Linked DNA regions of Homo sapiens: all the other regions are reported to be linked to region 3. The links are microRNA targets in miRTarBase. Many come from high-throughput screens and were not tested one by one. Region 3 holds a microRNA gene; each other region holds the end of a gene's coding sequence.
The links. Region 3 holds the annotated microRNA hsa-miR-6752-3p (UCCCUGCCCCCAUACUCCCAG, at 3,074-3,094, opposite strand). A microRNA usually pairs through its seed, bases 2 to 8, with sites in the 3' UTR of a target mRNA and lowers its output. Matches are read on the target gene's strand: a 7mer-m8 pairs with bases 2 to 8, a 7mer-A1 pairs with bases 2 to 7 and ends in A, and an 8mer does both.

Region 1 (4,287 bases), not on the chromosome of region 3:
GAGATGGGTGCGTGTGGACACGTGCGTGTGCAGAGACGTGTGCGTGTGGATGTGCGTGTGCAGAGACGGGTGTGTGTGGACACGTGTGTGCAGAGACGGGTGCACTTGACTCCATGCGTGTGTGCAGAGACGGGTGCGTGTGGACACGCGTGTGTGCAGAGACGGGTGTGTGTGGACACGCATGTGCAGAGACGGGTGCGTGTGAACACGTGTGTGTGCAGATGGGTGCGCATGACTCCACGCGTGTGTGCAGAGACGGATGTGTGTGGACACGCGTGTGTGCAGAGACGGGTGTGTGTGGACACGCATGTGCAGAGACGGGTGTGTGTGGACACTTTGTGCAGAGACGGGTGCGCGTGACTCCATGCGTGTGTGCAGAGACGGGTGCGTGTGGACACGCGGGTGTGCAGAGACGGGTGCGTGTGGACACGTGCGTGTGTAGAGACGTGTGCGTGTGGACGTGCGTGTGCAGAGACGGGTGTGTGGACACTTGTGTGTGCAGAGACGGGTGCGCGTGACTCCATGCATGTGTGCAGAGACGGGTGCATGTGGACACGCGTGTGTGCAGAGATGGATGTGTGTGGACACGCATGTGCAGAGACGGGTGCGTGTGGACACGTGTGTGTGCAGAGATGGGTGCGCATGACTCCACGCGTGTGTGCAGAGACGGGTGCGCGTGATTCCACGCATGTGTGTGCAGAGACGGGTGCGTGTGGACACGCGTGTGTGCAGAGACGGGTGCGCATGGCTCCACGCATGTGCAGAGACGGGTGTGCGTGACTCCACACGTGTTTGCAGAGACGGGTGCATGTGAACACGTGTGTGTGCAGAGACGGGTGTGCGTGACTCGCGTGTGTGCAGAGACGGGTGCGCGTGACTCCACACATGTATGCAGAGACGGGTGTGCATGACCACGCGTGTGTACAGAGATAGGAGCGTGTGGACATGTGTGTGTGCAGAGAGGGGTGCGTGTGGACACGTGTGTGTGCAGAGACGGGAGCGCGTGGACATGCGTGTGCAGAGACGGGAATGTGTGGACACTCGTGTGCAGACAGGTGTGTGTGGACACGCGTGTGTGAGGAGACGGGTGCGCGTGACTCCACGCATGTGTGCAGAGGGGTGCGTGTGGACACACGTGTGTGCAGAGACGGGTGCGCGTCACTCCATGCGTGTGTGCAGAGACGGGTGCGCGACTCCATGCGTGTGTGCAGAAACGGGTGCATGTGGACACGTGTGTGTGCAGAGAAGGGTGCACGTGACTCACGCGTGTGTGCAGAGATGTGTGCCCGTGACTCACACACGGACCTGCAGCCCTGAGCTCCTTCCCCAGAAGTCCCAGCCACAGCAGCCGGTGCGGAGACACGGGTGGGGCTGTGGGGTGGTGCAGGTTTTCTGCTGGGCCGAGGGTCCTGGGGGAGCCGGTTTTCCTCCCCCAGGCTCTCCATAAACGAGAGACAGAGGGTTTGGGGGCAGAATCTTGCGCAGAGACCCTGGAGCACCCTAGCAAGGCTGTGGCTCGAGGCGGTGGGTAACAGCACTTGCCGGAGCAGCCCCTCCTCTGGCCTTTGCTCCATGCATGCATTGGGTCACCAACGTTCACCGGGCGTCTTTATGCCAGCGTCTGTGCCAGGAGCAGGGGGCAGTGTGGACCAGGAGCCCTCCCGCCTGGAGCTGACCTCAGGGAGGCCAGGTGGACAGCCAGCAGGACACAGGGTGTGGGTGTGGCCCTCAAAGGCCAACCCAGGAACGGGCCGTGGGTGAAACCAACTGGGGCCCCGGGGAACAGCATTCCACGCAGCGGGATCAGTAGGGCAGAATCCCTGAGGCCAGAGCGTGCCTGGTGTGTCTGAGGACAGCATGGGGCCGGGTGGGGTTGGGGGCTGCAGAGGGAGACACAGACTTCCACACACGGAGGGGGAAGGCAGCGTGAGGACCAGCACTAAATCCCAGTAGGGAAAACAGAAGCAGAGATAAGCCACCAGGAAAAGATGAAAATCCTCACGGACTCCAGCCCCAGGCTCTCCTCCTGGGTTTCCTGCCTGGGTGCGCAGGGGACATGGCGACCGCACTACCGATTTCAAAGTGACTTTGAGGCTGGGCTCAGGGGCTCATGCCTGTAATCCCAACACTTTGGGAGGCCAGAGTGGGAGAATCGCTTGAGCCCAGGAGGTCGAGCCGTGATCGCGACCGTGTACTCCAGCCTGGGCGGCAGATCTAGACCCTATCTCCAAAAAAAAAAAAAAAAAAAAGAGAAAAGAAAAAAGAGAAAGAAAAACTTTGACCTGAAGACACGCCAATGCTCTTCAGCCTGTGTAGGCAGGTGTGACCCCCGTGCGGGGGTCCCGGGCGCTGTGCCCACAGAACAGGGTCTGACCCAGCACGCGGACGGAACCTTATTTTAACCCGAGACACAAACGCGCCCCTCTTGGACCCTGGCTCCGGCCCGACCCTCAGGGCGGCCGGCTGTGCGAGGCCTCGGTCACCGGGCGCCGCCGCGTCCCTGCGGGGTCTCCACCTGGCTGGGGGCTCCCCCCCGTCTTCATCTCGAGGACGCCTTAGGGACGTTTTGGGGCTTAAAGCCACTAAAGACGTTTCTTTCAGATTTTTGTTTTCCATTTTAAAAATTGCATTTGGAGCTACTTGGAGGTTTGTGAGTCGGTTTGTTTTCTTCATTTCAGATATTCGAGTCATGGAACTTTTTCAAAGAACTGAAGGGGGATTCCCGGTGATTTTTCCACCCCATACAGATGAAGACATCAAAGGGCCCCGCCGCAGTGACGAAGACAAAAGCATGAACAGATCTGGGTCCAAAGAGGCTCGGCAGGTGCGGTGGGCACGAGGGAGCGACCCCCGGGTGGCCGAGGGACTGAGGGATGCGCGTCCAGCCCCGGAGGGCGGCGTCCACCTGACCCCCCAGCCCGAGCCGCCGCCGCCGCCTCCCAGCCCGGCCTGCGCTGCCCCCTGGCGGTGGGGCCAGGAGCCATCCCAGCCTCTAAGCCCCCGACCCTACCTCGGCCCCCGGGGCTGCCGCGGAAGGGCCCCCAAAGCCTGCTCATAGCCAAGGGACAGGTATGTGGCCAAGGCCCCCCACAGCCCTGAACTGGAGTGTGTCTGAGGCTCCGGCAGGGGCCCCCTCACTTGGGCGCGGAGCCCTGGGAGTGGAGAGAGCGGACCCCACACCTGGGGCCGGACCAGCCTGGGGTGGCAGAAAGGGAGTCCGGGTCTGTGGGTTTGATGAGGGCAGAGGGAGGGGCATGCGTCCTGGTAAGTCGGGTGCTGCGGAGGTGAGGTGGTTCCATTTTGGAAACTGAGGAAGCAGAGCTTGGAAGACCTGGGGGGTGGAGGGGAAGGGTCTGCACGCACCCAGGAGTGGGTGACACAGAGGCCCAGCCTGCCAAGCAAGCCGGTGTCTGTGCCCTCCGGGTGGGACGAGAGACCCAGGCCCCGCCACCCAAGGTCGGCACTCAGGGCTGGCTCTCCTGTGTCCTCTCTGCCTTGCAGGCGGCTATGGGTCTGCGGCATATGGAAACAAGGGTTGGGGGGACAGCAGCTCCAGGGCTCCAAGTGGTGAGGGTTTGAACACCAGTGCCAGCGGCCTTGGGGTGGGCTCGGAGTCTGGGGTCCACAGTTCAGCGGAGGCTCTGCTCAGGCCCTGCTGGGCTCCCGCTCTGAGGGCTGCGACCTTCATCTGGGGTTCTAGGAGGAAGAACTTCTTCTGCAGGGGGAGGAAGGAGGTGCCTGTGTGAGCCGCGCGCCCCCGTGCCCACAGCTCTGCCCTGGGGCGTGCGTTCACACTCACGGGCATACGTGCTCATGCACACCCCCACCCCCAGGCACACTCCCAGCCCTCGCCTGGGTTCTGAAACTGCTGGAGGTTGAACCCACTCCCCAAGGCACCCTCAGCAAGAGGCTCCCTTGGCTCAGAAACTCCAAGTTCCGTCCCTGATGGAGACCACGCACCCTGCCATGCTGCCCTCCAGGGAGTCCTGGGGACAGTGAGAGCTTGCAGGAAGGGCAGGGCGGGTCTGGGTGGGGAGCCTGGCTCTGTATTCTTGACCATAGCCGGCTGGGCCCCTGGCGGGGACTGGCTCTCTGGGACCGGTGCTCCCCCCACCCTCTCCTGGAGCCCCAGCAGGTGCAGGACAGTAAGGCTGACCTCAGCCTGGGGCAGCCCCACCCAAGACTCCCCACCCCGCACAAACTGGGGTGCAGGGCCTCCTACCTCCCGGCGTTGCTGGGAACAGCGGCACCTGTACCAGGCGAACATGACCAGAGCGACCAAGAGGA
Region 2 (4,272 bases), not on the chromosome of region 3:
CATCTCTACTAAAAACACAAAAAATTAGCCGGGCGTGGTGGCGGGCACCTGTAGTCCCAGCTACTCTGGAGGCTGAGGCAGGAGAATGGCATGAACCCGGAAGGCGGAGCTTGTAGTGAGCCGAGATCCCGCCACGGGACCCCAGCCTGGGCGACAGAGCAAGACTCCGTCTCAAAAAAAAAAAAAAAAAATTGCGTAAACGTATGGGTAGAAGTGCGATTTTGTTACATGCATACACTGCATAGTGGTCAACTCAGGGCTTTTAAGGTATCCATCATCTTTTATCTACTTTTTGTTTGGCACTTAGAGAGTAGTACATCGGCCGGGTACGGTGGCTCACGCCGGTAATCCCAACACTTTGGGAGGCCGAGGCGGGAGGATGGCTTGAGCTCAGGAGTTGGAGACCAGGTTGGGCAACATAGGGAGACCTTTTCTCTATTTAAAAACAACAACAACAACAACAAAAAAAAAACCTTTTTTTAAAAATTACCCGGGCGTGGTGGCGCACACCTGCAGCCTGAGCGACAAAGCAAGACCCTGTCTCAAAATAACATAACATAACATAACATAACATAACATAACATAACGTACATCATGCTACGGAGGCCGCTAAAAAGAACATGGCTTCTGTCATACAGGAGCTTATGGTCTCATGGAGAGGCACTGTGAGAGTTCAGAGACAACAGCTCAAAGACAGGGTGGGGGCTTGAGAAAACTTAGCAGAAAGGTGTAGGGGTGGGAATCGGGGTGGGAGTGGAACTGTCTTTTTAGAAGGATGGCCTGGAGAAGAGGAGCAGTGAGAGCATTCCAGGAAGTGAAAGCGGTCAAGAGGTGGAGCTGGATAGCCGATATGCACGAAGGGTGCCCCGGAGAGCCACTTATCAGGACGCAGAGGTCTATAGAGCAAGGAAGAGGCAGAGTTGGAGCGTGGAGGGTCGAGACGCCAGGCAGGAGTCGAGGTTTGACAGGATTAGCGCTGAGCTCTAGCAAGACTGACCTACTGCTGCGAGGAGCTTGGGCTTGGGCAGGAAGCAGTGCAGCTCGCGGTCCGCAACGCAACAGAAGCGGGTGAATTCAAGGGCACCAGGCCTGCAGACTAGGGGATGGGAGGACGCGGCAAGCGGAGACTGGCCCAGGTGGGCGCGCAGGCAGTGGGACTGGCAGCCCCTGCTCGGCCCTAGCCGGCAGCGTACCTGGATGCTGCAGCTCCTTCGCATCCAACCGAGGCCTCCTCAGGCAGGCAGGGTCTCGAGGCCACTGTCTACGCAACTTCCCAGCACAGCCGAACGCAGCACTCGGAACCAGACACGTGAGGGTAGCGTCCCTGGACAACCCTGAACGCCTCAGCTATTGGTGCAGAAAGCAACTTTCTCCCTCCCACCTGCCGGGTTAGCCTCTAGGATTCGGCTTGCCGCGCTATAAAGGGAACTGCGCATCAGACGCGGCACAACTCCGCCCACTAAGGCGGGAGTCCGCGCAGGCCGTCACTCTGGCTGGAGGCCGGCTTTGAACTTCCGGCTTCCGGGCCCGTTATCCTTACTACGCATCCTCAGACGCGCCGTGCTCTCGGAGAGGCCCGCTGAATTCTGGGGGCTGTGGTTTCTCTCCCTCGAGGGAGGGTCTTTGGCGAGCCAAGCTCTGGAACCGGAAGTTTTAGGATGCTAAATCAGAGTCAGCCAATCCTCAGCCTACGGTGCGGTGACGTCGCCAGTAGCTGGGTAGATTTTCGCAGCCGGCCTTCTGGAGGTGGATCGCGCGCCCCCTAGAGCCCGGCTGTGGGCCTAGTCCAGGTAGGGGCCCGAGGGGCACCGCGATGCCTGGACCGCTAAGGATGCGGCAGCTTGGCCCGTGACCAAGGAATGGGCACAAGGGATGAGAGTCTAACGTTTCCGTCCCGTGTGTGATCTCTATTCTTGCAGGAGGCATGATAAAGCCCCTAAGAAGGGCCGGCAAGGCCGGGGCCAGCTTGCGGCGAGGGCGGGAGGGGGCGCTGGCGGGAGGGGAGAGAGAGGGATGGGGACTGAGTGGGCACCGCCGCTGACCCCTGGAGTAGCTGCGATTATGGAGGAGGGATTTCTTTTTTCATTTTTCCTACGGTAAGAGGGAAAACATACGTGCAATGATACGCGCCAGCACACGCACTGCCACATGCACTGAAGCTCCCTCTCCCAACTCTTCTTGTTTCTGGAAAAAACACGCTTTATTGGGTAGACAAATAGGCCTGATGGGAAGGCCTGAGTCACAGTGCACTGGGGAGTGAACAAAAGTAGGCAAAGTGCTTGAAGCTTCCCCTTTGCCCCCACCTTAACCTCCTGGGGAGGCAGCTCTGGACACTCAGTACCCAGACCTGGGCTCAGCAAGGCCTGGGGTGACTGTGCCCCTCACTCCTGCTGCCTGATCTGGGCAGCCCCACCCTTCACTGGTAAGACAGAATTCTCAAGGGATAGGCGCAGAGAGGAGCCCGCCTCCCTGGTTCATTGGAGAGTAACAGGGTTTTAGCATAATGCTGGCCAGAGCCAGTGTGCCAGGTGCTGCCACACAGGAAGCTGACAGCCCTGCTGGACGGGCGGGAGCCTCTCGGGCCCTCCGGACTATTTATAGCTGGAGGCCTAGGCTGCTGACCTGTGACATTCCTCTGCTGCCACCCCATCCTGGAGCAAGGCAAGTGCAGAGCACACTCCTCCTCCTCCCCTCCTGTTCTTTCCTCACCCCAGGGAGTAGGGTGGTTTTGATTTTCTTCCTCCTCCTTGAGTTTCCCAGCTCTCGAGTTGCTGGTGTTGTCAGTACCTCACGAGAAGGCCCTCATTCAGCAAAGAGAGCTGCCCTTGGAATATTGGTGCCCACCAACATAGGAATCTGCTCACCCTTCCCTACCGTTCATCAGCCTTTGGGCCACCCTCTGGCCTGCTGGCTTCCAGATGCCAGGCATGGTTAGCTGGTTACCCTGGCCGGTCTGGAGCAGCTGAGGAAGAGGTGCAGAGTTTGGGAGGAAGAAAGGGGTGGAGTCAGGGATGTCCTCTGGGGAGATAGCACAGGAGGGGCCCAGCTGACACCTCCCCCAGCTAGAGCTACTGAGAAGGAAGCCTGGGTGAATACAAAGGTCACAGGGAGCTGAGTGATCTGAGCCTGTTATGAAAGGTGTAGCTCTGTCAGCAGATTAAGTTCCTGCTCCCCAAAGAGGGTGCTGGCGGGGAGGGTGAGGGAAGGCTTGGAAAGGTCGCACAGAGTGGGGAGGAGCTGGCAAAGAACTAGGAACCGGGAAGTCCCTGGGGAGAATGTCAAGCCACCGAGCTACAGATGCCAGCATGGCAGCAATTTGGGTGCCAGGGCAGCCTGGGGGAGGGGGAAGGGGGAGAACCAGAGGTTTCTGAGGACACAGATGTTGCTAGGAGAAGCTAAAAGGGGTTTGTTTGAGATCTTTGTATTTTGTTAACAAACACTGAGATCCATCGAAGCTGTGTGGGTCCTGGCAGAGGTCAGCAAAGGGGTCCTTGGGGCCTGCATCAGCTCAGAAGCCCAGACCCCTCCCTGACAATCCTTGCCTCATCGCTCCTGTGGCTAAGATACTTCTTCAGCCCTTTAACAGGATTACTGGTGTATGTGAGACAGCCACTAGCAGCCCCTGCCCTACCGGCCTCTCCCCCAACCCTTCTCCACATACATCACCCCCGCCACCAAGCAGGCAGCACTGGGGCTTGATTCCACCCCTCCCAGAGGATATGGAGAAAGCCCCACATCTGGAGAGGGACAGGGCAACTGCATTTCTGGCAAATGTGGTGGCATGAGGCTGCCAGTGGCTTGACAGTTCAGGATCTCCAGGTGCGTAGCTGGGCCCCATAGCCTCCTGTCCTCCAGTGAAAAGATGAGAAGACTCTGCTCCCTGGGAGTCCTGGAGATCCTGGTGACTAGGTACCCCAGGCTTCTGCTGGTCTCCACTGGGGTAAAAAAGCGGCCTGGCCTGGGCCCTGGCCCCACTCACATATGTTCTGGATGATTCTGCAGGCAGTGGATGAATTCACCCACTGGCTGGCCCTCGTAGCACACCTTGTACACAGCCATGAACAAGGGAAACCTAGATTGGAGAGGGAAAGGCTCAGCTTAGCCTCCCACTCCTGGTCCACTCTACCCCCACCCCCACTCACTGCCTAACCCTCCTGTCCCTTGCCCTCCCACCTTGGAGCTCAGGAAGGATGGCTGTGAGTTTCTACCTTCTGAGAATGTGAACTCCCTAGCCCTAGGTTTAAGGTCAGATTGCTAATTGCCCTGCTCCCT
Region 3 (4,231 bases):
CCGGGTCCTGACCCCGCCCCCGCTCCCCCTTACCCTCCACCCCCGGATCGGCGGAGGCCCATCTGTTCCCAACTGGATCGGCCCGGGCCCTGCCTGACTGCAGCGGCCCGCTACGGTCCTGCTCCCCTAGTTTGAGGGGCCCCGTGTACTTAGGGGCAACTAGGGAGATGCAGCTGGTCCCGCCCCTGTCCCCGTGGGACTGGGACCTGTCTTCGCCTCCGTCTGCCTGGACCCACCCCCAGAACAATCTGGGGAAGCCCAACAGGCCCCGCCCCCAGCTGCACGGCTCCACCCCTGGGGCGGCTGATTGGCATCTCCCGCCACAGGTAGAACTGAACATCGTGGCCGGTTATGGGTCTCCCAAAGATGTGGCTGTATACGCGGCGCTGGGGCTGTCCCCGAGCCAGACCTACATCGTGGGCCGTGCCGTGCGGAAGCTACAGGCGCAGTGCCAGGTGAGGCCCAAGTGAAGGCCAGGAACAGGACCCCACCAGGGGGCAGGGCCCTCAGTCCCAGGCCTTGGGAACCACGGACTCTGGGGAAGATGTGAGAAGGCCTAACCGGCCTCCAGGGAACCTGGGATCCTCCGAGGACAAGGGCCATGAGCAGCTTGAGCTGCCAGCTGCCAGGCAAGCCAGAGGGGACAGCCCACACTGGAAAGTGCTCAAGACCCTAGGCGCTGGTTCCACTCGGCCATGGCTTTCCACTGTGACCTTTCTGAGCCTCAGCTTCCCATCTGTAAATGGAAATGATCATGGCACTGCCCATGTCAGCTTATGAAGATCACATCAACAGGCACAGGGCTGGGCACAAAGCAAGTGCTGGCTAAACATTGGCTGCTGTTATTTTTCCTCTAAGACCCCATTTTCCAGATGAGGAGACTGAGGCCCAGAGAAGGGCAGAGCTAGGAGCACAGCCAAGGTGCCCTGGCTCCCAGCCTGGGGTCCTATCTATTGAGAAGGCTTCAGCTCAGGCTGTGCCAAGCCTGCCACCAGTCCCCCAGCCTGCCTCAGGTGCCTCTGGAGGACCGTGGAGGGCAGCGTGTGGGCCCTTGGCCAGCACCCCCTCATCGCTGCCTACCTCTGCCCACAGTTCCTGTCAGACGGCTATGTGGCCCACCTGGGCCAGCTGGAAGCGGGCTCGCACTCGCATGCCTCCTCGGGACCCCCGAGAGCTGCCTTGGGCAAGAGCAGCTATGGTGTGGCTGCCCCCGTGGACTTCCTGCGCAAACAGAGCCAGCTGCTTCGCTCGAGGGGCCCCAGCCAGGCGGAGCGTGAGGGCCCGGGAACACCACCCACCACCCTGGCACGGGGCAAAGCACGGAGCATCAGCCTGAAGCTGGACAGCGAGGAGTGAGGCCCACACCAGCCTGGACCTGGGTTATTTATTGACACACCCAAGGGGCCCGAGGGGCTGCGTGTGGGAGGCTGGGGACCCAGACTTTTGGCCCCAGCGCTGGCCCCCCCAGCCCCACACCCTATATCTCCGTGTGCTCCTCGGTGTTACTTCCCTTTCATATGAGGGGACCCAGCGCCGGGGGGAGGGAGGAGGGCGTGGGCATGGGCGCAGAGGCTTTTCCAGTGTGTATAAATCCATGAAAATAAACGCCACCTGCACCCCACCCACTCACCCCATGCCTGGCATCACAGGGCAGCCAGCCCAGTTTCCAGTTCAACAGGGGACACTGATGTGCACAGAGAGGCCAACACACACCCAGGGCCATCCAGCTCACAGGCAGGGTCAGGATGGGGGCCTGGGCCTCAAAAGGTCGCACGAAACCCACGCCCAGGGCCATCCATGTCACAGGCAGGTCAGGATGGGGGCCTGGGCCTCAAAAGGTCTCACGAAGCGCTCGGCCCTCTCCTCTTTCTGGACAGTCAGCCCACCCCAGCCCAACCCGGCTCACCTCAGCCCCAGCGTAGCTTCTCATGGAAACCCTGCCCCCAGACACCGAGGCCAGGAGACCATGGGATCCGAGGCTGGAGTGGGAGGGCAGCACCAGGAGACTACCTCCCTCAGGTGCCCAGCTACCTAGCTTGTACCCACTTCATCTCCCCCTTAAGACTGTGGGCTCCTGGGGCGCCCCAGCCCTGGCCAGCGAGAGACACTTCCTTGGTGAAAGAGCTCATCGTAATTTCTCTAACAGGGACACCAGAGCCTCAGAGCTGGTGGGTGGAGGGGCTAGGATTTGAACCCTGATTCTTTGCCTCCCAACAGCCACCCAAGTACCAGGAATGCCAGGTGATGACCCGGCTCTCCCAGTGGAGCAGCTCAGCAGACTCAGAGAGAGATAAATAAAGGCCTTTATATACACAGAAGCATGACGCAGCACGGGCAGGGGGGCTGGCAGCTGCAGCAGTGGGCTTGGCAGGTAAGGCAGGGCCAAGTGCTCCTGTCAATGGGAGAAGATCCCCCGGAACCGGGCTTTGTCCTCTTCGTCCTTCTGCCGGATCCGTGCCTCCAGGGCCCGCAGCTCTCGGCTCACCACAGGCGCCAGGGCTGGGTCCAGCTCCAGCACTTTGGCAAAGTCAGCCTGGGCCTCCTGGGCATTCCACACGGCCGCGTGGGCCTTGCCCCGCTTGAAGTAGGCCTTGACGTTGTCTGCAGGGGAGGCCAGTGGGCAGTGGGCATGCAAGGGCATGAGGGGGGATCCTGGCCAGCTGCCTGCCCTCATGTCTCCTGGCACCATGGGCCCACAGGGGAGAGAGAGCCCTCCCTGACCTGAGGATGCCACCCCACCCCCAATACACCATTCATGCTTCATTGGCACAATGGGGCCCACAGCCCTGCCGAGTAGAGGCATTTAGTCAGGCCCCCGTGGGAGCTCAGAATGGGGGTTGTGAAAGGCTAGGTCTTGACCCCAGCAGTGACAGGAGAAAGGCCACTCTCTGACCACTCGCAGCCCCCGGCAGCCCAGGGCCCGGTGCTCACCGTCGTACTTGTTGAGGATGGAAGAGCAGTGGTCCAGCACCTCGTAGTACTCCTCGACCACCAGCTTGCACTGGCAGTAGTTGAGCAGCAGCGGCGTGATCTGCTGGTCCAGCTGGATCCATTCAGGGGACCCAGGCTGTTCCTGGGAGTATGGGGGCAGGGAGCGGGGAGAAGCTGTAGACCTGGGCCCCCTGGCTCCACACCCCCCTCCATCCATCCTCCCCCTCAGCCTCCAGGCAGTACCTTCATCTGCAGGTTCTTGAGGCAGGCAATGGCATCGTAGTACTTGGCAGCAGCCTCCTTCACATGCCCCTCGCGGTACAACCGGTTGCCCTCCTGGTGGATAAGTGGCACTGCCTTTGCCTTCTCTTCGTCTGTCATGGCCCATGGGTCCTGCTGGTACGTGCCAGGGCTCTCCACCTGCAGGGCATGGGGCATATCACAGCGGGGCTCGGGGACACCACAGCTGCGTCCGTCAGCAGCAGACCTGACCCACATCTGGGCTGGCTGGGCCCCCAGACATCACACACCAGCAGCAGAGCTACTTGTCACTCAAAAAGCATCAAACATCGATGTCACATCTCCTGTGTGCCCAGCACTGTGCCAAGTGCTAAGAATAGAACAGTGAACAAGACGGTGAAAAGCCCTGCCCTCGCAGAGATCATGCTGCATGGCAGGTTCCCTAAATGGACAAGGAAATCCATGAATTCCAAGGGACTTCAAGGTGCGGCAGAGGCTATAAAGGAAATGAGCTGCTGCGAGACAGAGAATGAGGAGACCGGGTGGGCAGGGCCGGTTTCCTGGAGGAGGTGACATTTGAGATGTGAAGGAGGAGGAAAGGAGACCCAGGGTACTGCCAAGGGTCCTGCACAGGTTTTCTTGTCTCTGTCCGCTCCCCCAGCAGTCCACCTGCGGATCCCACCACCCCTGGGTGGACAGGCCAGCGCCGCCCTGAGGCTGGGCAGTGGGGGCCTGGTGAGACCAGGCGCGGTGGCCCCTCACCTTCAGCATCTCCATGTGGAAGATGAGGGGCTGGGGGTTCTGCTGCAGGGCGTCCAGGTCAGCATGGCCCAGGGAGCTGTGTTCACGCATCTGTGCAACACCGCAGCAGTGCCGCTGGCCCTCCAGGGGGTCCTTGCCCACCGCGATGTTGCGGAGACTCTTGGCCACCAGCGGGTACAGGACCACATGCTGCGGGAAGGCAAGGGCGCCGGGGGCTCTGTCACCGTGGGCTGGCTGGTCACCGGGTCCACAAGGCCCAGCCCCCTTCCCCACCACCATCTGAGAACAAACACCAAGG
Region 4 (4,287 bases), not on the chromosome of region 3:
AAGTTTTTGCTTAAACAGATGTTTTTGAGAATTTTGTAAGAATAAAAAATCACTGATAACATCTAAGGGATAACTATGTACCAGGCTAAGCACTCAGTCCTCTCACCAACTGCACAAGGTAGGTGTCCTCAACCCCAGTTAGCTTGAGCCTGTCCCAGGTTTCCAACAATTGCAGTGGTGAGGCCAGGGTTAATTCCTGGTCCACAGGACTCAAGAGCCCTCTACTCTTAACCGCTCTATTATGCTCTCTCATTCACTGAGATAACTGCAAGCAGATCTTAATGCAGAAGCGGGGATGCCAGTCATTACTCTTACCCATCACTCTGGCAAATCCGAGGAACATCACGGGTCAAGAAGCAGACCTGGGGCTCTGGCAACCTCAAGAAATGGGGAATACACAAGGTGCAGCCCCAAAGACTGATGATGCAAAATGACACGGATGAAGAGTCCATTTAACACTACAAAGGAAAATTGGTGATCTGGAGTTAAATAGGCAAAATTCTGTTTTGTTTTTTTTTTTTTTTTGCTCCATTATTTATAGAACACCAAAAAAAGAGGTACATTCAGCTATTCATTTCTGTAAGTGTTTTTAGGAAGAGTGGCAAAAGGGTCTAGCCAGGTCTGCTAACACCACTTTCCTACTAGCTTCCTGTTTTCAAAACTAATGGCTGCCTCCTCCCTCAAACTGCTCAAGTCTTAAGCCCAGAAGCCTCAGTATCAATGTCTGCACTTCATGTGTGACGTGGCACTACCTTTTTGTGCTTCCATAGCGCACATACACTAACTCAGCCCACCAAAAATGCTAGGATATGGAGAAATTGGACACCATGAAGTATGAACTAGTCCCCTGCACCTATTTCCTGGATCCTTGCTTAAACTTGGGCAGGTGTGAAAGAAAAAATACTTGGTTCACATTCAAGAGACCCAGATTCAAGTCCTGATTTCATCAGGCAGCAGTTAAGTGATATGAAATAATTTTCGTGTTCTAGGCAGTTTTCTGTAATCATGGGGATTAATCAGTGGTTCTCAAACTGTGGTGAGCAGAACCTGGAGAGCTTGCTAAAAATTCTCCTAGACACAAGTCTGCCTCATTGAGCCCAGGAATCTGCATTTCAGTGCACACACCTGAGGATTCTGATGCTGGTCCGCAAGGGAGAGGCAGGGCAGCTGCTACAGCAGTGGGCCAGTCACCTCAAGGCTCCTGCTGAGACGTCTTCCCCACTGGCTGACGGTGCATAATCCCAGGAGACCCAGTTGCAAGGACTGTCCCCCAGGATCTGGACCACAGCGTGCACCCGAGCTTCACATTCCTGGACACCAAGAGAGGCAAACGCAAGTTCCCCTAAAGCCATGGCCCCTCTCCTTTCTCCAAGGTCTGCAGTCCTCCTGGGCTTTGGCAGGTAACATTTCTGGGTGGTTCTGACTACTAGGCTACAAATCTCCCTCTGGTACTACTGTGAACTGCTAGGGAAAATGATCAGTTACAACAATTCTTCCTGGTTCCAAGAAGATGAGGTAGTGCCTACTCTGATATGTGAATCAGTCAATCAATGAACCATAATATAATTTCCCTGAAGAGAACAAATTTTTGTTGAAAAATGGTGTTTATCTATAAGATTCAAACACAAAAAGAGATATTTCAGTGGGGGTGGTAGAGGGGCAGAATAAATGGTTTATAAAGAAAAGTGGTTTATAAAGAAAAGCAAACTTCTTCGCAGTTATCCTGGGTTCCAACCTCCACTTCACTGATAACCAGCCACAGTCAATGAGCACATTACTTAACCGCTCTGCGCCTCCGCTTATTCACCTGGAACACAAAGACATTAGTAGTATTTTAGAAAAAGATAGATTAAATGATAAAAGTTCCGAGAATAATAGCTGGGACATAGAAGGAGGAGTTATAAAGGAGTTATGAAGGGAGTTAGAAATTCATTTCATTTATTTATCAGTGAGGGCTGATTAGAGAATTCCAGAAAAATGGCAAAAAATATAAGATATCGGGAGAAAAGGGAAAAATAATTCCCAAGATTCCTGCTCTCAGAATTGACGAGTTTTCCGCTACACATTAACTTGGGCAGCTCAGAAACTTCTGAGCTTCCTAGATTTATTTTTCAGATCTCGAATCAATTAATTCTCAGACATTACAAACTTAACTGTTACTATTTCTGTATTTAACATAAATTTTGTCATACTTCCAGCTTAAATAACATCATTGCTTATTTTATTGCTGTTAGCAATTTAACAGCACTTAAAATGATATTTTTCTTTCAGTTTTTCTGAAAACATTATCCTAAATGAATATATATGTATACATGTATATGACATATATGTATATACAAACATATATATATTAATACTTCACCTTTTATTTCTCTTACACACAATTTTCTCACTTTCAAAAGTGTTGGGAAAGTTGCTGAAAGTGATTAGTACTTGATTTTGGTTTAAGTGCGGAATTCAAAACTACAGGTTAAGTAAGATTATGTAATAGAGTATAGAGCTTGTTCCTCCTGCATTTTTTTTTTTTTTTTTTTTTTTTGAGACAGAGTCTTGCTTTGTCACCCACGCTGGAATGCAGTGGCATGATCTCAGCTCACTGCAACCTCCCTGCCTCCCAGGTTGAAGAGATTCTCGTGCCTCAGCCACTGGAGTAGCTGAGATTATAGACGCTCAAGACCAGGAATGGCTAATTTTTGTATTTTTAGGAGAGATGGGATTTCACCAAGTTGCCCAAGCTGGTCTCAAACTCCTGGCCTCAAGTGATCCACCTACCTCGGTCTCCCAAAGAGCTGAAAGTATAAGCATGAGCCACCAAGCCCGGCCATCTTCTGCATTTTTCAGTCTTACTCTATTCTTCATGATGTTTTGGGCTGAGCTAAATTTGAACCCAGGCTTATACAGCCCCAACTCTATTTCTTTCTTCTTTATTACACAGCCTTGCAGAAGACAACGGTGAAGATTATACATGTAATGATTTAAGAGTCATCTAGGAAGAAGATAACATCACTAAAACTTGCCTAAGAAAGCTACTTACAAATCATGTACATTTACTTCCACACAGCCCTTTACAAATAATGCACACTTACTTCTACATAGCCCTTTTCCAGTGTGGATGCTCTGGATAACAGAAAGTTTTGAAAATAAGGATTTGCACTGACAGAGCCAAATTTTACATCAGTTAAAATTTAAAAAAAGAGAGAAACAACCAGGACACAGTGTCTTATTTCAACTCCTAAAATTAATATTCATGAGACTGATAAAAGTCTGTAAGCAGCAATTATTAGTCAATTTTTAGTTTCTAAAAATATTGTTTTATTAAATAACTGTTAAATAGGATTTTTACAAAATAAATGGCATAGAAAAGGGTAAAAATGTTTATGTTCCCAGAACTTTCTATGCCTTTTCAACAGAAAGGAAAAGGCACAGAAAGTTGTCAGCTGCTATTACTTCTGGAGAGCTGCCACAACTGGACGGTGTTGGAGTATCACCAGTTCTCTCTCTCATGGGAAAGAAGGGGATCAACACTTTGTAGAGAGGTAGCACGTCTTCAGGTAACAGCTGCTACACACAGCTGGCTTCAACTTTAGCTCCCCTGTTGATGACTGTCAGCTTCAAGGTGTAGCATCCCATGGCACTCAGGAAGAATTAAGGAGCTGCACGAGGTTTTCAAGACATTTCAAATAATAGGCATTTAGAGGGTTTGCTTCTGAGTTTGGGAAAGCTGAGATAGAAAAATAAGAGTACAGAAATACTAGTTTATGAAACTTGGTACTATACTTAGGAGGCACACACATAAACAAATACATATGAACAGGATTTATATATAATTTAAAGCTCTAAGTTCTTGATGTAATAGCATTCCAGAATATTTTGCATTTTTTAAAAAATAAACAAGTTACAAAATCAATATTTTTTTAAATTAACAGCTTACCCAGAGTATTTTTTAAAAAGTACCCCCCATAATGGATACCATTAACTATAATTCCAAATGAATGCCATTAATCTTTTTTTATGTACCATCCTTCCTAAAGCATAATCTTTAACTTCACTAGCTCCAGAAATTCATGGTCGCAGCTAAAACAAACTAAAACCTCCCCTGCTTAAAAAAAAAAATCAGACTATAAAAACACAAATAACCAACAGATATATTACAGTACAGGAAAGACACAATTCAGTGTTTTAGCATAAAAAATGTTCAGAGAATAACGCTCACTGAAATTTGGTGTCACTAAAAATGAATAATGTGCTTTGAAAAGAAAACCGTCTCTAGTATTGTGACCACATCAC
Region 5 (4,287 bases), not on the chromosome of region 3:
TAAAATTTAATTGACTAAATGTATTACATTCAATATTCCATGGGCTTCTTCTGGACAAAGGATCGGCATAAATACAAACAAACCTCTGGACCTTCTTCCCTAACCGACGAAGATGAAACACAGGAGGCAAGGGGCACGGGCACGCCTTCATATTTACACTTTGCCTTTACTTTACAGTTCAGTGCCAGAAATATTTACAGAAAATACAATAAGAAAAAATCATGTCTTGGCAACATACTGAAATTCATACAAACTGTATATATGATTTCAAGCAAATAATGATACTGCTTATTTTTTAGCCACAACTGCCAAGCCCTTCAGAGGAGAAAGATGTCTTGGTCACTATAAGAGATGAGGACTTGGGAAACTTGGTTTGCTTCAACAAGTATTTACTGGGCGCCTACTATATGCAAGGCACTGTGGAATCCCAAATTATACCTTTTCCCTCACCATTAAAAAAAGAAAAGCATCTGAAGAACATGAGTTGATATTCTGAGAAACACACTAGAAGTACATGGCTTCTTTAGCTACTAAGAAACCCACCGTTTGATTCCACATCGTACGGATAGACCACCTCCAATCTCTCCAACTCAGGAAAAGAGGCTGTCATGGAAATCTTTAAAACAGACCATCTGACTCCAATGTCATTTCATGTAAACACAGCAATCAGTTCTTTTCAGGAAGAGAGAACCTGAATGGGCTTTAAAATGGTGAATAGAGAACTACTGCCAGCAGCAGTGTCAAATTACCTCCAATACATGTTTCTTTTTTTATTATTTATTTATTTATTTATTTTTACCACCTACCACAAAACACATCTTTGAGCAAGGCTAACTTCCACTTTGGGTAAAGCTCCACCTTCCAGAAGAAATGAATACTCTTAAAGACTCTGCCTCTCTAGAACCCAGTCTGCAGAGTCTGACAAATGCTTCCCTAGTGTATGGAGAAGGTAACCGTTCATGAAGGCCTCATACACAGAACCTGCAGCAGGTAACTGACATTACTGGCCAAAGGTGTGGGTACTTGTATTCATCAATGAATCCAGAGGAAAATGGGCTGCTCTGAAATAAAGGATCTGGAAATGAAGGAAAATGTGCATGAGTATGCGAGTGTGTGTGTGTGTGTGTGTGTGTGTGTGTGTGTCTGATTAGTCCTTTCAAAGGCCCAATGGATGGAAGAGGGTCTCAAGAGGAAGCCCTAGACAAAAAGGAAAGCTAGCTAAATAAGGAAAGGATTAACAAGGTAAAAGCCCTCCTCACTGTCCTCAGTGCTCCCAACCAGAGGGGAGGAGAAAAGCTCCCTCCTGCAACTTAAGAAGGCAGTAGAAGGGAAACCTTACTTACCACCTTCCTCTTCACGGAATGCCACACTCATCCACCCCCGGCATACCCAACAGATATAGCAACTGAACTGTTTAAGCCACAGACAAAAGTGGTCCTGGTTTCCCCCCAGAGGCTAGAACATATGCTGGCAAATTTATCAATGGACTACTAAATATTAATATTAGGTGCTAAATATGTTCCTCCAGTGCTATTCTACTCAAAGTGATTTTTAACAAAGGCAGGTGGGTAAAAATAGTGACCATGAACTCAAATCCATACTAGTGAAAGAGCTAAGCGTTCTTCCCACTCCCTCTTTGGGCAGATGTTATTGTGAGCAGAAGGAACCAGCGCCTGGTAAGGTATGGGTATCCCATATTCCACTGGCTCCGTACACACTGGGAGTTTCATGCCTTCAGGGGCTGCACATCCTTCCTTCCCTGGAAGACGAGGAAGTCTCCCAGATCACAAATGCATTCAACATGATTGTTCATGTATCAAATACATTGGAATTACAAGGAGTTGCCAGAATTTAGAGCTAACTGAAGGATCAGCAAGACCAACCCTCATACACACACACATACAGCACATTTTTCTGAAATTAACTATGCCAAAAGTAAAAGTTTGATCTGAAGAATCACACTGAAGAAGTACATCTGCATCAGTTATTTTTAACCTCTGGAATGCTGTAAGTTACATATTAATTTATAGCCTTCTCTGCTCACTTCAACTAGAACAAGAGCCCATTTTCCCCTCAAAATGTCAATCTAGAATTACCTTGAAAGTTATTAAACCTCATCTTCTTCCTGTGAACTACTAGAACATTTTTAGGGTAGAATTTGCTCATCTTTATCCTATATGCCCTCTCCCATGTTACCATCTGGAAACATCAATTTATTGCCCAGCTTAAAAAGAAAATCAACTATTGAATAATACTATAACCTGAATGGAAACTGGAGTCATAGAAAGAGGAGGTTATCTTTACCTGAGCTTAAAACAAACATGAACAGGTTATGGCAAACTTTAAACCAAGAGCTGCTATGCCCATATTTCTTGCTTATAGATGACAAAATGCACATTTCTGGAATAAGAGACATTTGCACAGGGAATTAGGTCTCACACTATCCCCACTCCGTAAGTAAACCACCAAAACATCAAACCAAACAGATGGTTGTAGCTCTGACCCACAGTCGACTGACATCAGAGTTCAAGTGGGAAAACACCCCTTATACAACTGTGATCATTCCTCTTTGGACTTTAAATATCACTTATTTTCTTAAAATAATCTTACTAAAGAAGAAAGCACATGAGAATAGGATAAATGAGCAGTGTATACTGTAGCACTGTAACAGGAATCCTTGGATGTTCTGGGTCTGGCCACCTCAAAAGTTTTATCCCTGCAGAAAAGTAGCAGCGAGGTAATAGAAGTATTTCCAAAACCTGGCAGGGATCTGTTGGCTGGCAAAGTCCAGAAAACATGACAACAGCCATTTCTAACAGTAGCCACCCAAAGAGGTGGTCACTCATGTTTGTCAATTATGAGGAAATCCAGTAGTTCTCTGGGAGAGATCTGAATTAGTAGCGTTGAGAGGCTATTCCTGAACCCCATATTAGAATCCTTCACAAACTACTGCAGTTTGCTGCTTGGTCCTGAAATAAGAGACAATGGATGAAACCAAATAATTTTCAACCCTTATTGTGAATTTACATTTCTTTAAATAATATTTAATCAATGAATCACAAATATTTAACCTGTCATTATGTCACCCCGCTGGACAATAATGGAGAGAGTGGGGTATCACTGCTGTCTTATAACTTTTAACCCCACAAACTTTATTTGCATCCCCATTAAAGGACAAGGCCATGCTCCATTTCTGATCTGTTCCTGGGTCACTCAGAAACTGAGGCTTTCAGACAGATCTGTGCAGTGATGAGAAGGACAACTTTTTGAAATGTGGAGAAAAAAATATGACATCTTTTAATGTCAGGCTTCTTATCTGAGCAAAAAACATGTATCATCTTTTCTTTTTGTCAGTGTGACAGCTGGATGACAAGAAGACCTACAACTGAGTAGAAGGCTGTGACTTCTTTCCTTCTCCTCCATGCTATCAACATGAGTCTTTAAATGTCCTGTAAGATTCTGAGATTTTAATTTTGAATACAACCTCCTAAAAAGTGAGGTAAAAAACTATCTTCAACTTCTATATTGCAAATTTGTTGATACTACCAATGCACGTGTTTAACTGAGATGCATAAAAGCCTTTCTCCTCAAAAGGCTTATGTTTAACTAAAATTGTCACTTTTAAAAGAAAGTTTATGGCTAAAATGTATATCATCATTATCAGCAGGAGTGTGATTGTGTCTGGGAGCCCATTTCACTAGATAGCCCAAAGTCTTCTATCAAATGGGTTATAATGTGTTTCTTCTATTCTGGTGATTAAACAGTAAGCTCTTGGGAGTGATTTGTTTTTATTTTTACAGTGATCACCTATCAAACTGTTCTGCTGTGTTATAGTTCCCAAACTGGAGTTCAACAGTCTTAGAAATTCAGTGGTCTAAGAACTGCAGTTCTTGAGTCCAACCTCCTGGAAAAGTGAAGTATAAAACTCTGGCTCCAGCTGCTTGTTCCGGTACTTGTTGACAATGTCGGTGATTTTCTGTTTCCGGCGGACATGGGGGGGACTGTAGGAGTCACTTTCCAGTCTCTTTCTTCTACAAATGTTAATTACAGTCTGCCTCACCAGAAAGCCTTGAAAATAGAGAGTTTTAAAATAAACGTTAGAAACTAGTCACTTACGTAGGTGAACTGTAAGTATTCAGGTGAACTATTCTCCGCATACTCAAAACTATTTCATTCAATTTGCAAACTTCCCATCCCCAGAGAGATAGACATAGTGCTAAGATAAAACTGTCAGAAGAAACACACAATGACAAGGAAAAGGAGAATCAAAATCTATTCTAAAAACCT
Region 6 (4,262 bases), not on the chromosome of region 3:
CCCACCTCTGTTTTTTTTTTTTGAGTTGAGTCTCACTCTGTCACCCAGGCTGGAGTGCAGTGGCGCGATCTCAGCTCACTGCAACCTCCACCTCCTGGGTTCAAGCAATTCTCGTGCCTCAGCCTCCCGAGTAGCTGGGATTCAGGAATGTGCCAACATGCCCGGCTAATTTTTGTATTTTTAGTAGAGACGGGGTTTTGCCATGTTGGCCAGGCTGGTCTCGATCTCCTAACATCATGTGATCAGTCCACCTTGGCCTCTCAAAGTGCTGGGATGACAGGCGTGAGCTGGCCTGGGTCACTCCCAGTTTTAAACACAGCCCACTCAGGACCCACTCGGTCAGTTCCCTCTGCTCCAGCTTCTCCCCCTCTTCCAGAAGGAACTGAAATGCTGTTTCAGGCCAGGCGCGGTGGCTCACGCCTGTAATCCCAGCACTTTGGGAGGCCGAGGCGGGCGGATTACCTGAGGTCAGGAGTTCAAGATCAGCCTGGGCAACTTGGAGAAACCCCGTCTCCACTAAAATACAAAAATTAGCCAGGCGTGGGTGGTGGGCACATGTAATCCCAGCTACTTCGGAAGCTGAGGCAGGATCATTGGTTGAGCCTGGGAGGTAGAAGTTGCAGTGAGCCGAGATTGCACCACTGCACTCCGTCAGGGTGACGGAGCTAGACTGTCTCCGAAAGAAAAGAAAAGAAAAAAGAAGAGAAAAGAAGAAAAGAAAAGTTTCAGAACCTGTTTCTTGGCTTTCTATCTGGGCAGATCTTGGTCCAGGCCAGTTTTACCTCTTTAGAGAAGGGAGGTGAGGATGGAAGTCGGGGAAAGCCCGGCCCTCCCACTTTCACCTGCAGCTTCCCAAAAGCGGGCCCAGGTGGAATGGTCACCCAGTTTACACAATGCTATGATCTCTGGTGTGATCTGGGGCTGCTCTGAGAGGGGATAGAGAGGGTCTCCCACTATCAACGCCACCTCTGGGATGGTCTGGGCCTCTGTGTAGAGATCGTCACCCTCCCAGCCTCTGCTCAGCCATCGCCTCTCCCTCCTCACTCTGCAGCTGGGGTAATCCAAGCCTCTCACTCTGCCCCTACTACTTCACCACCCTGGGCAGTCAGCCCCTCACTGGCTGTGGCATCTCTGGCAAGTCCCTTTGCTTACCCCTGGCCTTAGTTTCCCCAGCTCATAGGGTGACTCTTGGGCCTCTCCCCATCAGAACCCTCCCAGTTTCCCTCCTGATTTTAATAAGCTCTGTACCCATTGTGGAGATCCACATGGTGGTTCAGGTACAGCCTCAGGATGCCTTCATCACCTTGCAGCTCCTCTAATGAGAGAGCTACAGTCGGAAGGACAGACTGCAGGCTACTGGGACCCACCCCCTCCCGCTTCAGTGGCAGATCCTGGAAGAGAAACCCAGTAGAAAAGGGTGGTTCCTAGACTGTTCCTCTCAGCTAGCAGGAAGGCCAAATGGCCCGCGGGGTTGGCAGGAGTCCCAGGGTACTTTTTTTCTGAGAAAGGGTCTCACTCTGTCATCCAGGCTGGAGTGTAGTGGCGCGATCACGGCTCGCTGCAGCCTCGACCTCCAGGGCTCAGGTGATCCTCCTGCCTCAGCCTCCCAAGTAGCTGGGACTACAGGCATGCATCACCGCACCTGGCTAATTTTTTATTTTACTTTTGTAGAGATGGGGTCTCACTATGTTGCCCAGGCTGGTCTTCAGCTCCTGGGCTCAAAGAGATCCCTCCTGCCCTGGTCTCCCAAAGTGCTGGGATTACAGGTGTGAGCCACTGCACCTGGACGCCAGCGTACTCTTGGGGTGAGGAGGAATAGTGGGCTGAATGGCTTGAATGGTGTGCCCCCAACAGACAAGTCCACATACTAACCCCCAGGACCTGTGCTTATGACAGTTTATTTGGAAAAAGTGTTTTTTCAGATGTAATTAAGGGTCTTGAGGTGGGATCATCCTGAACTTAAGATGGGCCCTAAATGCAATGACAGGTGTTCTTGTAAGAGACAAAATAGAAGAGGGAAAAGGCCATGTGAAGCTGCAGGCAGAGCCAAGGAAGGCCTGGAATCACCAGGAGCTGGAAGAGGGAGCGTGTCCCTGTCAGCACCTTGGTTTCAGACTTCTGGACTCCAGAACTGTGTGAATTAAATTCCTGTTGGACTTAAGCCATCAAGTTCACCACCCAATGGTGATCTGTTATGGCAGTCCAAGGAAATTAATCAAGCAGTTAAGGCCAACTGCTGGCCTAATTGGTAGGATGGGGGTGGGACCGGGGGCTATGGAGGCAGGAGGGTACTGCTACATGAAGACAGGCTGTCGGGTCAGTCCAGAGCTCCGAGGAAAGAAAGCAAGAGCACACAGATTAGGAGACACGGATGGAAGATGAAGGATGTGACAATTGAATCCATGGGCTTGGATTCGACTGGGTCCCTGAGAAATGCTACTGAGCAAGGTGGGGAAGGCAAGAAAGGACATGCCACACAGTACAAGCTCCAGGGACTCTGAGGACAGGAAAATAGGGGGCTGAGGCTGAAGGACAGGCTGGATTAGCCCTAGTTAGGATCAAATTTCCCACCACGGAAAGGGGGGTTGGAGGACATTCACAGAAAAGATCCTGTAGTGCCATTCCAGTGGGTTGTGCCATAGACTCAAGGATGAGGGGGTTCTGTTGGAATAGTCCACTTCGGGTCTCAAGGGAAGGTACAATGATTCCAGGGATTGACTGCAGGCCAGGACCTTTTGTGGGTTTTTTTAAGATGGAGTTTTGCTCGTTACCCAGGCTGGCATGCAATTGCGCAATCTCGGCTCACTGCAACCTCTGCCTCCCGGGTTCAAGCAATTCTCCTGTCTCAGCCTCCCAAGTAGCTGGGATTACAGGTGCATGCCACCATGCCCAGCTAATTTATGTATTTTTAGTAGAGACGGGGTTTCATCATATTGGTCAGGCTGGTCTCGAGCTCCCGATCTCCCGACCTCCCGACTTCAAATGACCCGCCCACCTCGACCTTCCAAAGTGCTGGGATTGCAGGTGTGAGCCACCGTGCCCAGCCAGGATTTTTTTTTTTTTTTTGAGACACAGTCTTGCTCTGTCACCCGGGCTGGAATACAGTGGTACAATCTTGGCCTCCACCTCCCAAGTTCAAGCAATTCTCCTGCCTCAGCCTCCCAAGTAGCTAGGATTACAGGCACCCACCACCACGCCCGGTTAACTTTTGGTTTTAAGACGGTGTCTTGCTCTGTTGCCCAGGCTAGGGTGCAATGGTGCCATCTTGGCTCACCGCAACCTCCACCTCATGGGTTCAAGCAATTCTCCTGCCTCAGCCTCCCGAGTAGCTGGGATTACAAGCGCACCCCACCACACCCGGCTAATTTTTGTATTTTTAGTAGAGACGGAGTTTCACCATGTTGGCCAGGCTGGTCTGGAACTCCTGACCTCAAGTGATCCGCCCGCCTCGGCCTCCCAAGGTGCTAGGATTACAGGCGTGAGCCACCGCTCCCAGCCGCACCGTTTTTTTCCTCCTTAAGAGAGCACTGATGCTCAGCTAGAGCTGACCTTAGAAGGTGAGGGGGAGAAAAGGCCACTGCAACACACTGCATTTCCTTACAGTGGTCTGTGCCGATTGACAAAAAGAAGAAGGTGTTCCAGTGTAACAGATGAGTGTCCCAGTAAAGGTTAACACTGATCAGGTAAACCGGGGGTGGGGGTAACAATAACACATTGATTCAGCTCAAGACCAGGTTCCATTTTTTCATTTGCCAGAGTGCCCACGGTGTCCTGCTGGCTGGGACCTTGCAGGTCGTCCTGGTTTGGAGTGGGGGATAGGAGGTGAAGGATGATGGAGGGGGCTATGTTGCAACGCTTCACCTGCTGGTCCCAGTGGCAGGTAACGGCTGCTCTTATCAGCAGGGGTAACCAAATGCCAAGTTGCATCAAGATCCTGGTGGTTTCCACTGGGCCAGCGCAGGCAAGGGTGGTGCGGGAAGAAGGCCACGTTAGGTACATAGGCCATGTCCAAATTCAGGTTCCATCCAGCAAGCTCCTATTTCTTGGACGCAGGCACTGCGTGGGAAGCGGACCGGCCGGGATTGCAGAGCTGGGCGCGCACCTCTTGCAGCTCTGTGCGCAGTTCCTCCAGGGCGCCCTGTGGCGGCGCCGCCTGCACCTGCGCCTGCAGCGCTTCCAGCGCCAGCGCCAGGTGGCCCACCTCGTCCCGCAGCGCGTTCCAGGCAGCACGCTGCTCCTCCTCCTTGTGGCGCTGCTGCGCC
Region 7 (4,287 bases), not on the chromosome of region 3:
TCTGGCCTCCTACACCTCATCTTTCTTCTTGGTGGCAGGACAATCCATGGACTGATCTATAATGCCCTGAAGTTGTTTATGGAAATGAATCAGAAGCTGTTTGATGACTGCACACAACAATACAAGGCAGAGAAGCAGAAGTGAGTATCTCTCTCCCCGGGAGACTTTCATCTTCTACCACCAGCTCACTGTGTTTCTCTCAAGCCCAACCCCAATCCTACTTTTGCTCCTCAGGGGCCGGTTCCGAATGAAGGAAAGGGAAGAGATGTGGCAAAAAATCGAGGAGCTGGCCCGGCTTAATCCCCAGGTGAGGTTTTCCTGCCACTGTTGTGAACTGAGGGGCCAGCCCATCTTGAGCTGGGGGAGAGTTTGTTGGGGGAGGAATATGGGGCACACAGGCCCCCAAGCCTCTGAAGTGGCTCTTAACGCTTGTCCATGTCTCCTCACTCAGTATCCCATGTTCCGAGCCCCTCCACCACTGCCCCCTGTGTACTCGATGGAGACAGAGACCCCCACAGCTGAGGACATCCAGCTTCTGAAGAGGACTGTGGAGACTGAGGCTGTTCAGGTGGGAGGGCAATGTAGGGGGATGGAGCAGAAATAATAGCTCTGGAAGGGAGAGGAGACAGAAACAGCAGAGCCAAAGAATAAGGGGACGGAACAATAGAATTCACTGGGAATTGGTCACCATTCCTCACCTTGTCCCTATTCACACACAGATGCTAAAAGACATCAAGAAGGAGAAAGTGCTGCTGCGGAGGAAGTCGGAGCTGCCCCAGGACGTGTACACCATCAAGGCACTGGAGGCGCACAAGCGGGCGGAAGAGTTCCTAACTGCCAGCCAGGAGGCTCTCTGACCCCTCACGTTCCTACCACAGGGCCACAGCCCACACAGCCCTGGGACACTGCCCTGGCCCTCCATACTCTGCTCCCTACTGGCTGTCTTGGGGGAAGGCAGCGCCTCTCTAGCTACTCAAGGGAGGGGGATGTGGGCACTTGAAGCAGGGACACCCACAGAATGGTCCCTCTTCTCCCCAAAAGGTGTTCATGCCTCCCTGTGGCTAGTACAGGCTGAGCACTAAGATGCTTAGTGCTCAGACAACCTGGGGATGCCTGTCCCCTACCTGCTCCTCACCCACAGCTACCTGAGGCTGCTCTGAGAAGTACACACAGGAATACATACGCTCCTCTATTCTTCCCTTCATCCTCATTTGAACGCCAGGTATCTCCCCTCCTCTCTCTCCCCTGCAGAGGCATGTAGGGAACAGCAGGAGATTATTCTCACCAAAGTTATGTCAAGCCCCATTGGTCCCAGAGTAGCTGAAGGGAAGCCAACCCCCCTGCAGCACAAATAGGCCCCCCAGTCCCAGCCGTGTGCTGGCAGATAGGGTTGTATTATTTCTTCTTACCCCATGCCTGACCAAGGGAGGTCAAAAGGAGAAAAGTATAGGCTGTGGACAATAACTGATGAATATAGGGCCCAGATGGACCAAGTGGGGCCGGGGAGGGATGAATAAACACCCTACCCCGTGCCCTGTCTTTGGTGAGCAGCAGCCCTGGGGTCACAGACATGGAAGGGACCACCCTGGGGCTGACTGCTTTTCTGTGCTGTTGGTTCCCAAAACTAGAAAGAAGGAAGCAGGGAGCGGTGCCCCAAGCATGGCTCCTGCCAACACCTATTTATTTCCTTGTTTGTGCTATGCTGGGCAGGCCTTCTCTTGTCCCTTATAGGTACCTTGGAGGGGCCAGGGGCTGAGGAAGGCCGGACCCAGGTTCCAGGGGCGCAGGCAGTGCGGCTTTTGGCTGTGTACATAGGGTGCTTTATTCTCCACAGAGTGATACATGCTAAGGTGGGTTGGGCTTGGACCGATGTCCCCATATGTACAGAACTGAATAAAGTGGGTCTCTGAGAAGTCTGATGTGCCTTGATGTGGAAAGGGAGACGGGGAAGATGGAAATGGACATTACAACCAGGGATGTGTTCAGTCCTGTGCTGGTTCTGGCCTGGAATGTAGGAATATAAGGCAGCTCTCACTGTGGTCACTTCCAGGCAGGGGATGCCTGCCGGGCTTGGAGGGCTTTCTGTACCACATCTTCCCACTGGGCATCCGATATCTCCCGAGCCCAGGCAGGAACCCCTGGCGCAGGCAGGCTTACTCCAGCCATTGTCCTTTTCACCAGCTCTACATGTTCTGAAATCAGAGCCAGAGGCCATTCAGGCATAGAAATAATGGGACCAGCTCCCCTCCCCAATCCCCGAATCAACCCAGAGCCCTTGGGCTGCTAGGGTCACCAAATCCACCTTGTTACTTTAAGGCAAGCCTGCCCATCCCCAAAGCTAGCAAAAGAGCATTTCACTTGGACTCTGAAGTCTACAAAATCTTAGTTTACAAACTATCTTTTTAGGATAGGGTCTTCCTCTGAAACTTCCTTCTACTGACTCATGCCAGTTCATTTCCTTAGTAATTATTCCAGAATGAAAGAATGATCTTTTACCTGGGTCCATGGGAATAGAGCTGTGGTTGTTCAACGCTGTAGCTCCCTCCTCATCTTCATCTTCACTCTCTAATGGTGGGTCTGGCAAATGAAGCCCCAGGGCCTGCAGAGCCACAGAAGACCGTTTGGGTCTAGGCTTTCAGGGAGCCCAGCTTCACCTGTTCAGGAACCATCCCTCCTCCACCCTACCTGGATTCGATCCTGGATGTCAGCAACTACATCTCCATCCCCCACTGGTGCCAGTTCCACCTCCTCTTGTTCAGGATCTTGGTTCAGGGGCTGGTAGGAGTAGCCAGCTGGGCCCGACCCCGTTTCCTCCTGCTCTTCCTCAGGCTCCTCACTGCTCCAATCCCCAGTGCCTTCTGAAGGGCCCTGATGTCCCAGTTCCTCAGTCTGATTGGGGAAGATACGCTCAGGGCCCATGGTGTCTCCTCCTAGAACTACTGTTGCCATCCGGGCAGGGGCTGCAAGAACAGGGAGGCGGTAGGACAGGGATCGGATGAAACCAGGCCCATCTTCATCCTCTCATCATCTCCTTGTAGTCTCCTGCGTGCAAAAAACCAGCTCCTCCCCGAGGCTCCTGCATCCTCCACCCCTCCGCCCCAATTCCAGCCTCTCGTTCCTCCCCCTCCTAAGTCGGGGTTCTTATCTTGAACCAGGCCCCACCAACTTGCTCCGCCACTTCCTAGTTAAACGCCCAACCGGAGGCCCTGCCACCTCCTAAAAGACACCCCTTCCAGAACCCCGGCTCCCCGCGCCACGCCTCCCCCGCGACTTGGGAACTCTGGGTCATCAGACTCCCCTAAACAGGTCGGCGTACCCGCCCCCTTCTCCCCTCTCCTAGAGGACCCCCTCTGTACCGCCTGACAGATGCCTTTCAGGCCCCATGGGCTCCCCTCAAATGGCCCCAGCTGCAGCGTCCCCCACCCGCCCCCATCCGAATCCCGGCGCCGGTGTTCCCGCGCGCCTCACCCGCTCAGAGCCCGCGGCCTCCACTTCCGGCGGGGCAGGACGTGCAGAGGTGCCTAGTCCTCCAGCCCCGCCCCATATCCATGATTGACGCTGGCGAGGACGAGGAGTCCGCCCCTTGCCCCGCCTCCGTCATTCCCAGCCCAAAAAACAAAGGACTGCATTACCCAGTGGCCTCCTCGGTCTCGACACATATTTGCACATGCGCAGAATCTCTCCTACGCCCCTGCCCACTCCTCAGCCCTCTCGTCCCTCAGGAAACGTATGGACTACAAGTCCCGAAATGCCTCCGGCACTTAGCTACGACTGCACGTGCGCGCACAGCTGCCCGCCGGAAGAACCGAGCTTGGCTGTGTTTATCTCGTTGGGGACTAAGGCGTCGGTTGGCGCGCAACGGGTTCTAGGCTGCAGGCAGCTCGAGGACCCGCGGCCCCGCCCCGGCTCGGCCTGGCAGGTAGCCTGGGATGGGTAGAAGGGCAAGGGAGAATTAGGGGGCTTAGGACGTGCTGTCTGGAGCTGGAGTGGCGGGGGAGGGGCCTGAGAGTGATGAGGTGGGGGTGGGGAGGGAGCTAGGGGGATGATGGGAAAGGAGAGTGTTAATGGGGAAAGCAGGGCTAGGGGAGGATGGCGAGGAGATGGGTAGGAGAGACCTGGTGTCTGGAGGAAGCAATGAAGGAAATGGGAAGGAAGACTGGGCCATGAAAACAGGGAAGCTGAGCATAATGGAAGGGGAGGGGTGTCTGGCGTGGTGGGCTAGGGGAGGCCGGAATGTCTGGAAGAAGACAGGGATAGAGTCATATGCAGAGAGGGGTATCGTGGTCA

Region 1: miRTarBase lists SECTM1 as a target of hsa-miR-6752-3p. Seed matches in the 3' UTR shown: 7mer-A1 at 2,498-2,504.
Region 2: miRTarBase lists GPD1 as a target of hsa-miR-6752-3p. Seed matches in the 3' UTR shown: 7mer-m8 at 3,621-3,627.
Region 4: miRTarBase lists RTTN as a target of hsa-miR-6752-3p. Seed matches in the 3' UTR shown: 8mer at 2,605-2,612.
Region 5: the mRNA of RALGAPB is a reported target of hsa-miR-6752-3p. Seed matches in the 3' UTR shown: 7mer-A1 at 2,714-2,720.
Region 6: miRTarBase lists OPA3 as a target of hsa-miR-6752-3p. The part of its 3' UTR that is shown has no 7-base or 8-base seed match.
Region 7: the mRNA of PPP2R5D is a reported target of hsa-miR-6752-3p. Seed matches in the 3' UTR shown: 7mer-A1 at 1,002-1,008 and 7mer-A1 at 1,639-1,645.

The regions. Positions count from the first base shown.
Region 1 is chr17:82,318,656-82,322,942 of GRCh38, forward strand. It overlaps SECTM1 (secreted and transmembrane 1), which reads right to left. Exons shown (of 5, transcript NM_003004.3): 4 at 4,223-4,287; 5 at 2,369-3,715. The coding sequence ends at 3,506. Among named protein-coding and RNA genes, the nearest start is that of CD7, 3.2 kb to the left of the region's middle. RefSeq lists silencers at 2,757-2,936, 2,947-3,096.
Region 2 is chr12:50,109,223-50,113,494 of GRCh38, reverse strand. GPD1 (glycerol-3-phosphate dehydrogenase 1) reads right to left here. Exons shown (of 8, transcript NM_005276.4): 8 at 2,182-4,072. The coding sequence ends at 3,976. COX14 (cytochrome c oxidase assembly factor COX14) reads right to left here and starts at 1,259. Exons shown (of 2, transcript NM_032901.4): 1 at 1,194-1,259. RefSeq lists enhancers at 930-979, 990-1,229, 1,450-1,709, 1,770-1,819.
Region 3 is chr11:67,489,158-67,493,388 of GRCh38, reverse strand. It overlaps MIR6752 (microRNA 6752), which reads right to left and starts at 3,144; the gene lies at 3,074-3,144. AIP (AHR interacting HSP90 co-chaperone) reads right to left here. Exons shown (of 6, transcript NM_003977.4): 3 at 3,934-4,122; 4 at 3,175-3,351; 5 at 2,932-3,073; 6 at 2,286-2,601. The coding sequence ends at 2,396. PITPNM1 (phosphatidylinositol transfer protein membrane associated 1) reads left to right here. Exons shown (of 24, transcript NM_004910.3): 23 at 327-455; 24 at 1,093-1,621. The coding sequence ends at 1,356.
Region 4 is chr18:70,000,516-70,004,802 of GRCh38, forward strand. RTTN (rotatin) reads right to left here. Exons shown (of 49, transcript NM_173630.4): 49 at 2,516-3,721. The coding sequence ends at 3,636. Among named protein-coding and RNA genes, the nearest start is that of CD226, 55 kb to the left of the region's middle.
Region 5 is chr20:38,574,555-38,578,841 of GRCh38, reverse strand. It overlaps RALGAPB (Ral GTPase activating protein non-catalytic subunit beta), which reads right to left. Exons shown (of 30, transcript NM_020336.4): 30 at 1-4,068. The coding sequence ends at 3,875. Among named protein-coding and RNA genes, the nearest start is that of ADIG, 4.5 kb to the left of the region's middle. RefSeq lists a silencer at 910-1,110.
Region 6 is chr19:45,549,478-45,553,739 of GRCh38, forward strand. It overlaps OPA3 (outer mitochondrial membrane lipid metabolism regulator OPA3), which reads right to left. Exons shown (of 2, transcript NM_025136.4): 2 at 1-4,262. The coding sequence ends at 4,037. Among named protein-coding and RNA genes, the nearest start is that of OPA3, 33 kb to the right of the region's middle. RefSeq lists enhancers at 3,544-4,174, 4,175-4,262.
Region 7 is chr6:43,010,430-43,014,716 of GRCh38, forward strand. PPP2R5D (protein phosphatase 2 regulatory subunit B'delta) reads left to right here. Exons shown (of 16, transcript NM_006245.4): 13 at 39-140; 14 at 235-307; 15 at 452-568; 16 at 720-1,913. The coding sequence ends at 857. MEA1 (male-enhanced antigen 1) reads right to left here and starts at 3,517. Exons shown (of 4, transcript NM_014623.4): 1 at 3,357-3,517; 2 at 2,686-2,960; 3 at 2,497-2,599; 4 at 714-2,192. The coding sequence starts at 3,384. The coding sequence ends at 2,041. It overlaps KLHDC3 (kelch domain containing 3), which reads left to right and starts at 3,820. Exons shown (of 11, transcript NM_057161.4): 1 at 3,820-3,919. RefSeq lists enhancers at 1,185-1,685, 3,649-3,768 and a silencer at 3,389-3,438.